Linked DNA regions of Homo sapiens: region 1 is linked to region 2. A link means that fine-mapping ties the variant in region 2 to the expression of a gene that starts in the linked region. Tissue or cell type: unexposed skin. Region 2 holds a variant in brackets; the other region holds the start of a gene. All regions are shown on one strand. Distances are from middle to middle.

Region 1 (8,185 bases), 44 kb before region 2:
ACAGGCTACTTCAGTTCAAAAAAGAAAGAAAAAGGCCCATGTCTTCAGCTGGGATTACAGGCGTGCGCCACCATGCCCGGCTAATTTTTGTATTTTTAGTAGAGACAGAGTAGAAACAGAAACAAAACAAAACCTTCAAAAATATTTAGCATTCTGCTATATAAAATATAAACCCTATATTCCTAAATGAAATGGCAAAGATACAACCTTTGTAGTTCACCAGCCACAGTAATATGAGAGGGGTGATTCAGGGCAGAACCTGATGTTAAACATAACTGTACAATATTACTAATTACAGAGAAATTGTACCAATAAATATTTTGGTTGTGGACTGCTTTGTCATCTTTGCAAGTATTTTTAGTTGAAAGCAAGTGGTTGGGTAGTACACGTGGACATGGTTCTGATTTTTAAATACCTATTTTTACATTCTGGTCACTGGTTAGGTTTTCTAAACTCAATTCCTTAGAACTAGTAATTTGGAAAGGGTAAGCCACAAGAATGTTACGTTAAGAAGCCAAGGATCTAACTAGCTCAGCAACTCAGATCAGCACAAAACTCATTTGGAAACCTCCAAGTGCTAGCATTATCTAATGATGGACCCAGGCAGTCAGTAAATCGTTAAGAACAGGTATGAAAGTGAGCAAACTGCCCTAAAGCTATCTCCTGAAAAACAGCAAGAGATATCTGAACTTCCTTCTTTTATATTTAGATGGTTATTTTTTTGGTGGCCTCTCTTCAGATTCATCCCCTAAATTAAATTTGCTTCTTTCTACTTGGACTTAAATTTCAGATTTGAAATATACACACTTAGTTGCTACAAAATGCTCCCTGGCAGTTTACATTTTTTACAAAAGTTAGGAAAAATTTTACTGAAATTATAGCTTTAACTGATTTTTTAAAATCACTTTTAATCTTTTTTAAGGATCACCATGCAACGTAGATATATGAAGAGTTCGAGGGACGTGGCTCAATTCATCCACGAATTTTCTTTCGAAGGTTTTTGCAAAAAGTGCTCTCAACTACTTGGACTAGTGGTTAAAGATTAAAGAACTGTTATGACTAAGTCTTTCTTACAGAGGGATGTTTTAAAAGGAAAGAAACCGTCCCTTCCCGTTACTCTAAATGAGCAGCCTCTTGTTCTCGGCAGTCTGTCTGCACACAAGACCACTACTGACTTCAGTGGGAATTCTGCCCAAGAAGTGAGGAAGACAGGATAGGATTAAATTAGCGCTAAATCCACACCATTGTTCCAAGCCATTACCACTTGTACAGTTCTCCAATAACCTCCAAAGAATAGATATCTGAAGTTTGATGGTGGTTCTTAAATTGAATTAAAAGAATGACCACTCGAGCTCTGACAGGTGACACAGCATAGCTCTTCAAAAGTTGTGTCAAACTCACAGCCTAACGGATGGAGCCAGTTGGCCCTTATCACAATTCAAGATTGCATTGCAATGCAGCCCCCATCAGTGGCTGCAACAGCCACCCAGTGATTTCTCACAGCAATGAGCCTGCAAAGGGAAACTGAATAGGATTAAGCACTATTCGTTCCCCCACTGAAACCTGTTCAAAGCTTGAGAATTCTAAATCCTAGCCCCTGCAGCATAGAAACTGACTCAGTTTCCCTCAACTGCTAAGTCCAAGGTGAAATCTGACAGAACACCAACTGAAATGCTAATTCTCAACAGCGTTATAAAGAGACCAGATAAATAATGTATTCCGTTGAAAAAAACAATAAAAACGTAGGGTGGGGGAGGAAATAAAGACTGAAAAACTGAGGGGAAAACCGCGAAAGTCGTTTTTTTAAAACAGCTTAAATAACAGTAACAAGAGGAACAAGACGCCTGGCACACACATGCCATTTCAGAGGCAAGAAGTTCAAGAAACTGGGGAAAGATGTGATTCAGAAAAGCGAAAATATAGCCACAGCTCCTCTAGATTCCACCTTCTCTCCCATCCACCCAGGGATCTTAAAATTAAGGGCAGCTGTGGTGTTGATGGGGCAATTCAATGAAAGACTACCCGGGTCCGTAGGGAGGGCTCCATACGCAGACCCCTCCCCAAAATAATAGACTCTAGGCAGTAGTTCTTCTCACCAAACCTCATTTTATTTATACATATATATAAAAAAAAAAACTTGACCTCAGGGGAGGTGAGCGATCTAGAGAAGCATAACTGATGTCCCACCACAGACCTCAGGCTGCTGGGGGCAGCGTCTGCGCCTGGGGATGGCGTCCCCAGACGCCGACTTCAACCCTGTCGCGCTCCTTTAGGTTCTCCTCGCCCTTCCCCGCTGCTCACCTAAAAATGCTCCCAACCCTCGGCCCCCAGGCGCAGGAGGAGAAAAAACAAGCCATCTGTGGTGAGATGGCCTGGGTGTGGGAATTGTAAGGATCGGAGCACGAAACACGCGTCCCTCTCCGCAGCTCCCAGACGGCGCAGGCGGCAGCTGGGGGCGCGGACGCGAGCCTACAGCGGGCCCGACCCGCACCGCGCGTGGGGCTGGCGCGCCGCCCTCGCCCGGCTTCCCGCAGTCCCCACGCGCGCGGCCGGCCCGCGCTTCCCCTCCTAAAACCTTCCTCCTGAAGGGCGACGCCGCGGCCGACCCCCTCCCCGCGGGGGGGATGGAGCCGGATTTTTCCCGCTGTTGCTCCACGGGGCCCGGACGCGTGACCTGAGCCCACGGCACCCCGGGGGGGACGGCGTCCTCCCCGTGCCCCCGCCTTTCCTGGCTCCGCCGGGACGCGGCCCCGGTCCCCCGGAAGAGGGAAGAGGGGGACCGCGGGGAGCAGCGAAGCCGGGATCCGGCCCGGAGCAACAGGACCCGGACCCCCGGGCAAGAATCGGGTCGGGCAGAGACCGGGAAGGAAAGGAGAGAGGGAGCCGCAGAAAATCCCAAAGCCGGGCCCCCTCTCCCCGCCCCCCATCCCGGTGGGACCGTCCCGCCACCGCTTCCTGCCCGGAATCAGCTTCCCAGCTGCAGCCAGAGGAAAAATCTGAGCCGCCCCTGCAACCCCACACTGACCAGTCGCCCGGCCCGTGCAGCCCCGCACGCCTCCTTACCCCGACGCCGTACCTCAGGAGCTCGCTCGCCGCGGGACCCGTCCCTCTTCAGTCCCAGCCGCCGGCAGCCGCGCCTGCCTCCTCCCTCCGCTAGGTTTCAAATTGAAATTCCCTGACTGGGGCCGTCAGAGGACTCTGAGGGCCGGCCCCGCCCCCTCGCGGCGGAAGCCCCTCCCGCGACCCCGCCGGACGAGCCCCCGGCGCGGAAACCCCCGCGGGCGGTCCCGCCCCCGACGCCCAGGCCCCGCCCCTGCGCGGGCGGGGGACCTTTCCCGCGGGATTCGGCAAGCGCGGCCGCGGAGACCCGGGGGTGGAGGACGTCTTTCGCCCTCAGGGCAGCCCGGATGACAGCTAATGCGCCTGGGCAAGGCGTTCTCAACTGCGATTCCCGGCCTTAAATGTCCTCTCAACTTTTAAAAGTTATTTATTCAAAGTGCATTTGCTGACTAAACCTTCACTGAGCGCCTTCCTAGAGGTAAACACTGGAGCAGAGCCTGGAGATGCAGAATAAGGAAAACTGGGTCTCCCTCAGTCTAGAGTGGAAAAAGTGCTTTCACAGGAAGGGCATTGAAAAGGAACCATTTATTCTTCCTGTGGGAGGGACAGGAGGGGTTGGGGAAACCCCGTGGAGGAAAGGCCTCCCCAGAGTAAGTAGGATTTCTCTGGGCAGAGGCCTGGGAATCTGGATTGCAGAGCATGACCACGGGTGAAGAAGAGTCTGGAAAAAACCTAGTTTGGGGCTAAATTGTGGAAAGCCACAAGCACACACACGCTACCCTTCTGGTTCTTTTCTTTTGTACAATGAGGTCAATATGTTTCAGATTCAATATATTTCATCTTTTGAAGGTTTGCACGTCAAGCTGGTGTCAAACAACGTGTCCAGCTCACTGCCTCCAGCATCTGCCTCACACGCACCTCTTATCCCTTTTACTCCTCCCACTTTTATTGAGGTCTTTAGTGATTCCACCACAGCCAAAGTCGTCTCCCTTTCTTTCCTAAACAGAACCTTTTCCAAAATTAACAATGTCAAATGAAACCTCAGTAACAATACCTTCCAGTTAACAAAATACATTCACATATTTTATCATCATTTGATCCTCACAATCACCCTATGAAAAAGGCAGGCACGTTTGAGCTCCATTACATCAAAAAGATTTGGGAAGATAAATTATTTGCCAAGGTCCTTCTAGTAAATAATACAAATAATAATAGTTAAGGTTGATTGTGTGCTTTATGTGCTAGGCATTGTTCTAAGTCCCTTACATGTATTAATTTAATCACAATCCCATATGCTAAGTATACAAGTTAAATTTTATAAGGTGTGCTAAAACAGAGCAGAAATCTGATTAGACAGCAATTCTGGTAAAGGAGACCTGGGAATTTAATGAGAAAATACTATTATTTTCTCATAATAAGAAATATGCAGCAGATTTACAACGAAACTAATGAAACAAACTTCGGGATCTCTCATTTTCACAAGCCTTGAAACTAACTTTATAATTTTGTATTTCATTTTGTGTTTTTTAAAGAGTCCCTAAAGTCATATAAGCTTTTGGGCCCATAAAACATTGAACCACCCTGATGGAGCCCCCTTTAAAATGCTAGTGCAAAATAACATAAATATAGGCATAGTTAATAAAATATAATGCCCTTCTCATAAGAAAGGATATGCTTACTATACTCTGCGTTGAAGTACATGAATCACTCCTATATGCCACCTCTTAAGAAGAAATTTTTCCCTCCAAAAGAAAATATTGATAAGCTAAATTATAACCATAAATGGGTGACCTTGAAAATGTGGGAACCAGCAAGATTTAGCCTAAAGAGATGATTAAAGGTGATAAAAAGGTTGTCAAATGTATAAAGGCTATTGTGTGAAAGAAGAATTGAACTCTGTTTTTGGACACAGCCTTACATAGCCCTGGCATTTTAATGGAATGGAACAGATTCAGTGAGGACCTAGCAGGAACTGAGGGCAGAAAAATCAAGTCCCAGAAGCTATAAGGAAGTGAAGAAAACTGATGGAAGTGGCATCATAGAGATTTAGCAAACAACAGGTGGTAGTCCAGACAACCAGGGAAGTCTAACAAGAAGAGAAGAGGGGTTTGAACAGAAAGAAGGACAAAGTCCTGGAATAGGTGACATCCAAAGACTCAGGCAGGCGGAAGCACTGTCAGGACTACCAGGCTGCAGTTCAAGGGCAGAATGTTAATCCCCAGGAAAACACTCTAGGTAGAACAAGATTGGGTCTTCCTGCTAGACACACTGTAGTAACAGGCAAAGGACTGACACAGAGAACAAGAGAAGAATATAGGTACTAGTCCTGAGAGCTACCACATCCAAATTTACCATAATAGCCTCAATCCTGGGCACTATGTGCAAGCAAAGTTAGTCTGGAAGTATGGACTAGAAATGTACCCAGGACCTCCTTAGTGCCCTTACTTACCAACTCACCCCCATAGGCGTGGCCTCTGGAAGAGCTTGATCTCACTATATCCATGAGTCATCATTTTATCTTTGTGCCTTCTGTGTGCCAAGCCCAAACCAGGTTGGAGTGGCTCTGGGTTGAGGACCTGCCCTTCCTTTACGTGGTCCACAGGCAGCAAGACCTGAAAATGCCCTCTCCTACTATTTCTAAGGCATTCTCAAGCTTCATCGTGAATTCATGCAATCCCAGTTCCACTGCCACAGCAACAAACATATCACACAAATGACTGCAGGAGTCACTCTGTCACCTGGCCAACTTTGGCTCAGTTTCAACTGGACTACAAGACCCTGCTTTAGTGACTTAAAACAACCATTTTATTGCTTGTGGTTCTTTGGGGCAGGAATTCAAGCAATGCTCAGCTGGGAGGCTCAACTGTGGATAAAGGATCTAAGATGGCTTCACTCACATGTCTGGCAGTTGGTGCTGCCTGTCAACTGGGGCACCTAATTTCTCCTCCACATGGACTCTCATCCTCCAGACTCTTTCTCTCTCTCCCTCTCTCTCTGTTTCTCTCTCTCTCCCTCTGTCTCCCTTTGTTTTCTGCACGCGCTCCCTCCCTCCATCCTCTATGTGGCCTATCTAGTAGGATAACCCAGACTTCTTTACATGACACCCAGCTTCCAAGAGAACAAAAACAAATGCTGCAAGGCCTGCAAGGGCTTTGCCCAGAAGTCACACAGCATCACTTATGCTCCATTCTGTTGGTCAAAGCAAATCAGAGGGCCAGCCGCAATTCAAGGAGAGGGGTCATAGACTTTGCTTCTTGGTAGGAGGCGTGGAATGTCTGTACAGTGAGGGGGAAAATTGTTGACAGACATCTTGTAAGCAATTCACTACAGGCACCATGTTTTTCTAGTCTGGTATTCAAGTTGGCCCTCAAGCAACTCTTTATACAGATTTTTTATCAAAAGCATCACAGGACCTCCTTTCCATCTAAGACACACCAAGTGATGTCATCTTTGGAAAAGCCACTCCCAACTATGGCTAATAACAGGTATATGCATCTCAAGCCTGCCAAACTGAGGTATTCTCTCAATTGTAGTTGGAGTTTTGCCACACACACACACACACACACACACACACACACACCCTACTTAATTAGGCTCAATGACAGAGAAACAGGGATGGACTGGCTGATTCCCTTAAGCTGGAACAGAGTCTTCAGAGTTGCTCCTCATGACATCTCATAATCAATTGCTCCCTAGAGCTGAAAACAGAAATGGTACAGATCCAATAAAAGTCCCAGAAAAGCTACATTTGGAAAGCACATATGTATATTATTTTAGCGCGTGGTGGCACACACCTGTAATTCCAGCTACTCGGGAGGCTGAGGCAGGAGAATGGCTTCAACCCAGGAGGCAGAGGTTGCAGTGAGACAAGATGGCGCCACTGCACCCCAGCCTGGGCGTCAGAGCCAGACTCCCGCTCAAAAAAAAACAAAAAACAAAAAACAAAAAAACAAAGAGACATCAAAAGAGAAGGCTCCAGGCTCATTCATAGACATAGTCAAAGCAAAGAGGAGACTCTGAAAAGAGCCTAAAGGGCTCTTTAGATTCCTATTTTGCAGGGAATACGCAGAAGTCCTGCTATGGAAAATGATTGAGACAGAACACCAAACTTTAATAAAAGTGGACTGGCATGTGACCACCCCACTCCACTACATGCCTGCAGTCAGCAGACTGCCCACTTAATTAGATGTGGGGATGAGGAAGGTAAAATGACCTTTAAGCAGTGTCATTGGACTTTGCTGGACAGACAGAATTACCCCCACAATACCATAGACAACTTCTGATGTGGTGTGACAAGGCGAGCCAAATTCCTTGGGCCCACGCTGGGGAGCCTTGCCTGAGGAGCATAATTTGTAAGTGGTCTCAGCAAATGGTGGTAAAATCCATCAACAGCGACAATCAGAGCAGCAGAAGAGGCTGTTGAATTACAGTACCAGGGGGAAAATTAGAAGAGTAATCCCCTGGATTATATCCTTGAAATATTTACATAGCCCAGACTTGATTGGCTAGTTTGTAAAATAGCCCCCGGAAATAGTGGCGACAGTGGGATTGGAGCTGGAATGTTGCCGTTTCTAAGCAAACAAATTCCTCCCTTTGGAAAATGGACCATCTTAGAGAGTGGTCCTTCGTTTATTCAAAACAGATGTGTGGCGGAAGGTTGGTATTAGCAAAGTACCATTCTTCAGTTTAGTTTTGTGTGGTTTCCCAAGGCACACAAATGTGTTCTACTTATTAGAAAACACTTAGAAGGATAGGGGTTTTAAGGTTATATGTATGCTCTTACTGCTTATAATCCCACTCTCTCCAGAGGAAAACCTTCCAGGAGGGTGCAATAGCTGAGAAGAAGAACACACCCAGAAAATGAAAAAGGACGACTCAACCATAGGTTTTGCAAAGGCAGGGACTTCGCTTTCTGTACCATTGTATTTTAGTTCCAAGCACTGCAACTCATAAAGGGCTTCTTCAGTAAACATTTGTTGAAAGAGTGAACCTAATTGAAAATGAGTGAGGTACCTTCAATTTCCTACAATTTGATAGATCCGGTATTCGGAGGAAAATTCCCAGGGCATAACACCTAAAAATGATGAATGTAATTTTTTAAAGCATTTAAAAAATACATGGCTGA
Region 2 (8,185 bases):
GGAATGCAGTGACGCGATCATGGCTCACTGCAGTCTCCACCTCCTGGGCTCAAATGACCTTTCCGCCTAAGCCTCCTGAATAGCTGGGACCACAGGTGTGTGCCACCATGCCCAGCTAATTTTTAAATTTTTTGTGGAGAATAGTTCTTGCTTTGCTGTCCAGACTGGCTTGAATCCCTGGGCTCAAGCAATCCTCCCACCTTGACCTACAAAAGTGCTAGGATTACAGACGTGAGCTACTGCACCCAGTCCTTGTTGGGCCCCTAGATAGCTTTAGGATGGGAGCTGGTTGCCAGAGGAATTAACCATGTGATTAAAGGGTTGGAAATTTCAGCCCCATTCCTAGATCTCTGAGGAGGGGAGAGGGGCTGGAGATTGAGTTCAATTACCAATGGCCAAAATTTAATCAATCATGCCTACATGATGGAACCTCCATAAAACCCCTAAACAATACGATTCAGACAGTTTCAGGGTTGTAGAACACATCTACATGCTGAGAGGGAGGCACACCCCAATTCCACGGGGACAGAAGTTCCTGTGCTCAGGACTCTTCAAGATCTCTCCCTGTGTATCTCCTCAGCTGCCTGTTCATTTCTCTCCTTTAGTAATTAGCAGTGATAATAAATAAAGTCTTTTCCCAAGTTTTATCAACCATTCTAGCAAATTATAAAACCTGAGGAAGGGGTCATAGGAACCTGTGATTAATAGTCAGTTGGTCAGAAGTACTGATGGAAGCAAGATACTTGCAACTGGCATCTGAAACGAAGGCAGTTTTGTGGGAGTGAGTCTGCGGAATCTGACACGACTCCAGTTAGTTACTGTAGGAATTGAATTCAATTGTAGGATACCCAGTTGGTATCTGGAAGGTTGGAGAACTGGTTGTTGGCATGGAAACAACCCACACATTTGGTGCCAAAAGTATTATGAGTAAAAACAGCTTGGAATATTAAACTGACCCTCAAAGGAAAAAAAAAGCCAATAAAAGGATGCTATCTTGCCAGGACCTTCCAAGGAGCCTCAGAATTGTCTGTTAAGGGAAGGAAAAGGGGAACATTTGATTGACTCACTATCTCCTGTCCCAACCAGGCAAGGGGACTGTCCATGGGGCACTGATTCCCTCACACTTCCAGTGTGCACTCGCTTGAATGCCAGGTAGGTCTCTGCAGACATCCCACCTTATGCTATCCCAGGATAGGATAGTCCCAGGATAAAACATGAGAGTTAAACAGTTCAACTGGACCGAGCTCGATGGCTCACGCCTGTAATCCCAACACTTTGGGAGGTTGAGGTGGGAGGATCACTTGAGGCCAGGAGTTCAAGACCAAGCTGGGCAACATAGCGAGACCCTGTCTCTACAAAACAACAACAACAACAAAAACAAAAACAAACAAACAAACAAGAAAACCCAAAAACTAACTGGATGTGGTGGTGGTGCACGCTTGCAGTCTTAGCTACTCTGGAGGCTGAGGTGGGAGGATTGCTTGAGCCCAGGAGGCTGAGGTTGCAGACAGCCATGGTGGCACCATTGCCCTCCAGCCTGGGCAAGAGAGTGAGACCCTGTCTCAAAAATAAAAAGCAATAATAAATAAATAAATAAAACTGAGGAAAGTTGTTCTTGGGTGATAAGACATGAAGCTGTTTCCAACAGGAGTAATAACTAAACTAAAGACAGGCAAAAGGATGTGAGGCCAGGCACAGGAGATGGTCAACGTGGGGAGCTTCTAGAGACTCCAATCAGGTCTGTGAGTTCCAGTCCCCACTCCTAGCTCTAGTCACAGTCTTCACTTGAACACCCTACCTCCATTCTAAACCTTGATGGCTAGAGTTTGATTTTATTAAGAGAGCTTATCAAGAGGTTTCTTGTAATATACCATTTCTCCTTTGTCTACCATACTTTCTGCAAGTAACACATAGTTTTGGAAATTCAGGTCAGTTATTTAAAAAACAAAAATAGTAGCTAAGTACAGAGGGTTGTGTGGGAAGCACTTCAACTTCCAGACAACATAAGGCTAAGCGCTGTGACACATTTGAAAATAAGTCCTTATTTTTTATCTTTTAGAATGCAGTCATTTGGAGTCCTTCTCTACCGATGGCTGAAATTACTCATCTAAGGAGAGCCAAATCTGCTCCATCCAGAAATGAAACCCACATAACACTTTATCATCTTTCAGACTCTTGACATTAACATATTTTAAATATTTACCTTTTAGTTTTATATTTATTTTGACATTTTATTATATTGCCTGCATGTCCTTTCTGTTCATCTACAACTATATTTTCTTTTTTCCTTAGATCAGGGATTAGCAAATGATGATCCACTGCCTTGTTTTTGTATGATTTGCAAGATGAGAATGGTTTTCACATTTTAAGTGGTTTCTAGAATGTCAAAAAAGTAATATTTTGTGTTACATGAAAACTATGTGAAATTCAAATTTAAGCCCATCAGTAAAGTTTCATGGGAACATGGCCATGTTCATTCATTCACATACTTTGTATGGTTGCTTTTGCACTGCAAGGGAGATTTAAGTCATTGCAACAAAGACCATATGGCCCTAAAATCCTAAAATGTTCACAATCTGGCCCTTCACAGAAAAGTTTGCTGACCCCTGCCCTGAATGACAAAAGGATGCTTGTTTAGTTTCCTTCATGTATTACCTAGCCTTAGGGTTCCAGGCACTTGAAACTGCTTTCTAATGAAGATAATAATTCATATGTGTCACTAGAATTGGTTTTGACAAGGCCACTCAAAATCTATTAGATAGGAAATGGTTTTACTAAAGTTGTTTTATAATCTACAAATCAAGTACATAGTGTATGTAAAATAAATGTTTATCAGATAAATTAATGAGTGAATAACTCTGGCAAATCTGGTAGTGTGTGACCTCAGCAAGAAGCCAAGGAAAAGCATACTTGTTTCTGCCTCACATTTGCACAGAGCTTGATGACACATACTTCAAAAAGCATATTCTTATCTGAGATTACAAAGTCTTTCACAATGACTGTATAGGAGATAAAGTGGAGGGAAAAACACCCTCTTCCTAGAGGGAGTATCATAGAATAACAGAACTGGAAGGGAAACATTTCATGCAGCTGCTGACTTTAAGCAGGACTACGCTGGAATCATTCCCAAAAGATAAGTTTGCTCTTTAATAGTAATAATTAGGCCAGGTGCAGTGGCTCATGCCTGTAATCCCAGCACTTTGGGAGGCTGAGGTGGGTGGATCATCTGAGGTCAGGGGTTCAAGACTAGCCTGGCCAACATGGTAAAGCCCCCGTTCTACTAAAAATACAAAAATTAGCTGGGCGTGGTGGTGTGCACCTGTAGTCCCAGCTACTTGGGAGGCTGAGGCAGGAGAATAGCTTGAACCCCAGGAGGTGGAGGTTGCAGTGAGCCGAGATCATGACACTGCACTCCAGCCTGGGTGACAGAGTGAGACTCCATCTCAAAAAACAAAACAAAACAAAACAAACAAACAAAAACTTAATAATTATCCAGAGACACAACTTCCTGGGCTTAGATATTTCAGAATATCACAACTAAACTCTTAAAAATTTCTGAAGGCTGGACACCGTGGCTCACACCTATAATCCCAGCACTTTGGGAGGCTGAGGCAGGTAGATTGCCTGAGCTCAGGAGTTCAAAACCAGCCTGGGCAACATGGCGTAACCTCGTCTCTACAAAAAATGCAAACATTTGCTGGGCTTGGTGATGTGTGCCTGCAGTCCCAGCTACTTGGGAGGCTGAGGCAGGAGAATCGCTAGAACCCATGAGGTGTAGGCTGCAGTGAGTCATGTTTGCACCACTGCAGTCCAGCCTGGGTGACAGTGTGTATTAGTTTGTTTTCATGCTGCTGATAAAGACATACCTGAAACTGGGAACAGAAAGAGGTCTAATTGGACTTACAGTTCCACATGACTGGGGAGGCCTCAGAATCA[C/T]GGTGAGAGGTGAAAGGCACTTCTTACATTGGCAACAAGAGAAAAATGAGGAAGAAGCAAAAGCAGAAACCCCTGATAAGCCCATCAGATCTCATGAGACTTATTCACTATCACAAGAATAGCACAGGAAAAATCAGCCCCCATGATTCAATTACCTCCCACTAAGTCCCTCCTACAACGTGTCGGAATTCTGGGAGATACAACTCGAATTGAGATTTCAGTGGGGACACAGCCAAACCATATCAGAGCGAGACCCCATCTCAAAAGAAAGAAAGAAAGAAAGAAAGAAAGAAAAAAGAAAGAAAGAAAGAAAGAAAGAAAGAAAGAAAGAAAGAAAAAAGTTCTTCTTGCTCTTCAGCTTAATTCTTCATGCAGTAGTATAAGAATACTTTTAAAACCATTCATTCAATAACTTTATACACAGCATTTGCCTTAAAGTTTGATAGTTATGTCTCCTTTCTCCTAGTCATCTTATTCTCAGTTTGAGGGGTAGTGTTTGACATATTTTTGTATGTTTAAAAGTTACCACCATCACTACTATCCCCAGTACTCACTAGAATGGGAATTAATACATTGTGATAGTAAGAATATTAAACTTTGTTTAATCCATTTAGGCTGCTATAACTAAATACAATAAACTGACCTATTTATAACTGAGTACATAACTGGGTACTGTAAATAACAGTTGGTTTTTTTTTTTCTCACAGTCTAGAGGTAGGGAGTCCAAGATCAAGGTGCTGGCAGATTCAGTGGGTGTCTGGTGAGAGCCTGCTTTCTCATAGATGGCACCTAATCACCTCTCAAAGACACCAACTCTTAATACTATCACATTGGACATCAGGTTTCAACACATGAATTTTTGGGAGACACAAACATTCAGACCATATTAGACTTGGGGTCTGATGTGGTTTGGCTCTGTGTCCCCACTCAAATCTCATCTCGCATGGTAATCCCTACATGTGGAGGGAGGTGTACCTGGTGGGAGGTGTTTGGATCACGGGGGCAGTTTCCCCCATGCTGTTCTCAAGATAGTGAAGGAGTTATCACGAGATCTGATGGTTTTAAAGGTGACAGTTTTTTCTGCACTCACTCTCCTGCTGCCTTCTGAAGAAGGTGACTGCTTCCCCTTCTGCCATGATCATAAGTTTCCTGAGGCTTCTCCAGCCATGGGGAACTGTGAGTCAATGAAAATTCTTTCTTCATAAATTACCCAGTCTCAGATATTATTTTTATAGCAGTGTGAGAACGGACTAATACAGAGTCTAAAAGTCAAGATATGAGTTCTGGCTTGAGATGGTGCCTGCCATCTAATGGATGCTTGGTGAGTATTAGTAACTTTTGGTCTTGTTTTCTGTGAACCTGGATGATTTACTGACTATTTCTGAACTTCATCTATGACATGTGAGAAGAAAATACTTTCTGAGTTGATATGGATATCAAATGATGTTTCTGAAAATGCTCACTAACCTAGGAAGCATTATATAATTTCAAATTATTGTGACAAAATAAGAATTCAAAAATACAAGAAAAGTGTCTGCAAATGGCAATATAAATTAAAAGGTCAGTCAATTATCTTTGGCCCCTGTCCTCTCCCTGCCCACCACTAGATTTAAGAGAGAGAAGATCCTTACTCTTGACTCAATAAACACAGAGCTTGGAGTCTATGCTGGAGGCCAGCCTGTTTCATTCAGGTCAATATGTAACTTCAGCAGGAACCAGGGACCCCCAGTTAATTCCAAATGAGGATTCTGACTGAGCTGGAAAGTGCACTGGAGCTTTTTAAAACAGGTGCACAGAAATTTTATTTTTCTAAAAATGTGCTTTATTAGAAGTGATGATTTATTATGTCAATCATATATTACAAATTACTTTGCCCAATGATATAAGCAAAACACATAGATTTTTCTAAACAGGCTTATTTGATCAGAGGTTAAGAGAACAGCCCAGCTCTGGCTGTTTTATACTAGAATATAAAGACCTAGGGGGAAAACCCACTTAAATAGGTATTAATTATTGCAAATCTCTCAAAAAAAAAAGCACTTGGTTTTAACCATTATTAATACATTTTAGCCCATGTTTTTCATAAAGGGGCCATGGTTTTGTTTTAGATTTAAATTTAAGACTTTGTTTTATTTCTGTTTATCTTGAGTTTGAGGGCAATATTTTGGCTGGTCTGTAAAGGTTTTTGTCCCAACTACTCAATATGCTATGGTAGGGTGAAAGCAGCCACGAACAATATGTAAATGAATGGGCATGGCTGTGTTCCAAAGAAACTTTACTTACAAAACAAATGTCCAGTCTGCAGACTCTAGTCTTCTGACTCCCATTCTATACCAATAAGTAAAGATCACAGGAGCCCCTTACATTTACACAGAAGTGTAAGCAGTACACAATAGTCCTGTCTCAGAGCTATGCCAAGTCTCTAGCTCTCAGTCTTAATCTAGCCCTTAGGAACTTTGATAGTCCTGTCATCCTGTAGGGCTTCACACTGGCCCACTACATTAGTGACATAATGATGACTGGACCAAGTGAGAGGAATTCACATTCTTATATATATATATATTTCACACATATATATTTATATGTGTGATAGAAGGTGGAAAATAATCTCCCAACAAACTTCAGGGCCTGCCAACTTGGTAAACTGTCTAGGAATCTAATGGTTCGAGACATGTCAAGATGTTATCTCAGGGAAAAACTAAATTTCTGCAACTTGCATCCCCTATCAATAAGAACAACCCCAAACTCATGCTATATACAGTCTCAAAAAATTACCTGACTACCCTTGAGGGAAATAAGTCATATATGATTTGTTGGTACTCAGCACTATTTCTATTTCCTTTGATACTCACCCCTTCATGTCAGGGGCTGATGAATGAGAACTGTCTTTTCATAGTCCCTGTAAACCAAATACAGTTTAGATTCTGCCCATGAGGTGTACTTGTGCTTAAATTACAAGGCAGAAGACAGAATCCATTCCTCTTTCTTCAATTGTGTTGGTTGACATGTGGACTTAAGAAGATGTAACTATTTTTTTTGGGGGGGGGACAGGGTCTCACTCCATCACCCAGACTGGAGTGCAGTGGGACCACCATAGCTCACTGTGGACTCGACCTCCTAACCTCAAGCAATCGTACCACCTCAAGCCTCCCAAATTGCTGGGATTACAGATGTGAGCCATTGTACCCCGCCCGAAGTTGTGACTTTTTGCAGCAACTTCTATATTCCCTTGTGTCGTTCACCCCAGGACTTCAGGGCAATCATGACTATTGATTTCAGTCTCTTACATCCTCCTGACTTCTGCATGAAAGCAAGAAGTTTCAGATTCTTTGGACTGTGAATGTGAAAGCTGGTGGCAGCTCCTCCGACTTTCATTCCTTATGCCCTTGCAAAAATTTATAAGTACAGTACCTATACCTAATTCTCTGTAAATTAAAGCCTTTTATCTTTAAATATTTAAATTGACTTCCATTTTTCCGGCTGAGACTTGACTGCTTGCAAGAATGAGAAAATTCATTTTTGCATTTTTTATAATATTTAATATTTCTTGATGAAATGCAATAGGATAAATGGCTACATATTTTTAATACCATATTCTAATCATTTTATTTATCATAAAGCCCTTCATGACATCATTATATTTCTTATAATGGCACAGATCATTCCTGTTTGTGTCTAAACCTCAAGCAAACTAGTCCTCCTAAAGGATTAGTACACAGTATTAGCACTCACTACCATCTGGCTGTCTGTTACAAAGATATAAACAAGATATTAGTTGAGATAAACAATTCTTGTTGTTTTAATATCATACACAATTTGATTCTATGTCCTGGGGCCACTTGGGCATCATCTTTCGGTAAATAACCTCAGGAGTTTAGACAATAGTAAAATGTTGTAAAATAATTAGAAAGTGATATGTTTGCATATTTATTACATTTTTTAAATTAACAGCTTATGGAGATACAATTCATACACCACACAGATCATCCATTTAAAGTATACAGTTCAATAGTTTTTAGAATATTTATATAGAGTTTTGCAGCCATCACCACAATCTAATTTCAGAACATTTTCATCATTCCAAAGATAAAACCCCATAACCCTTAGCAGCCACACCCCTCTCCCAGCCCTAGGCAAACACCTATCTACTTTCTGTCCCTGTGGATTTGCTATACTGGACATTTCTAATTTCCCCACACCCTTGCCAGCATTTTTTATTGTCTGTCTTTTAAAATTATAGCCAACCTAG

The links. PIP is the estimated chance that this variant, and not a neighbour inherited with it, causes the effect.
Region 1: it holds the start of EPB41L2, and the variant in region 2 is fine-mapped to the expression of EPB41L2 in unexposed skin (GTEx, PIP 0.95).

Annotation. Positions count from the first base shown.
Region 1 is chr6:131,060,079-131,068,263 of GRCh38, forward strand. EPB41L2 (erythrocyte membrane protein band 4.1 like 2) reads right to left here and starts at 3,167. Exons shown (of 20, transcript NM_001431.4): 1 at 3,077-3,167. LOC105378004 (a long non-coding RNA gene) reads left to right here and starts at 3,325. Exons shown (of 3, transcript XR_942993.3): 1 at 3,325-3,538. RefSeq lists silencers at 2,624-2,723, 3,064-3,403.
Region 2 is chr6:131,104,376-131,112,560 of GRCh38, forward strand. All of the region lies in intron 2 of LOC102723445 (a long non-coding RNA gene), which reads right to left. Among named protein-coding and RNA genes, the nearest start is that of AKAP7, 27 kb to the right of the region's middle. RefSeq lists an enhancer at 691-860. The variant C/T (reference allele first, on the strand shown) is at 3,937.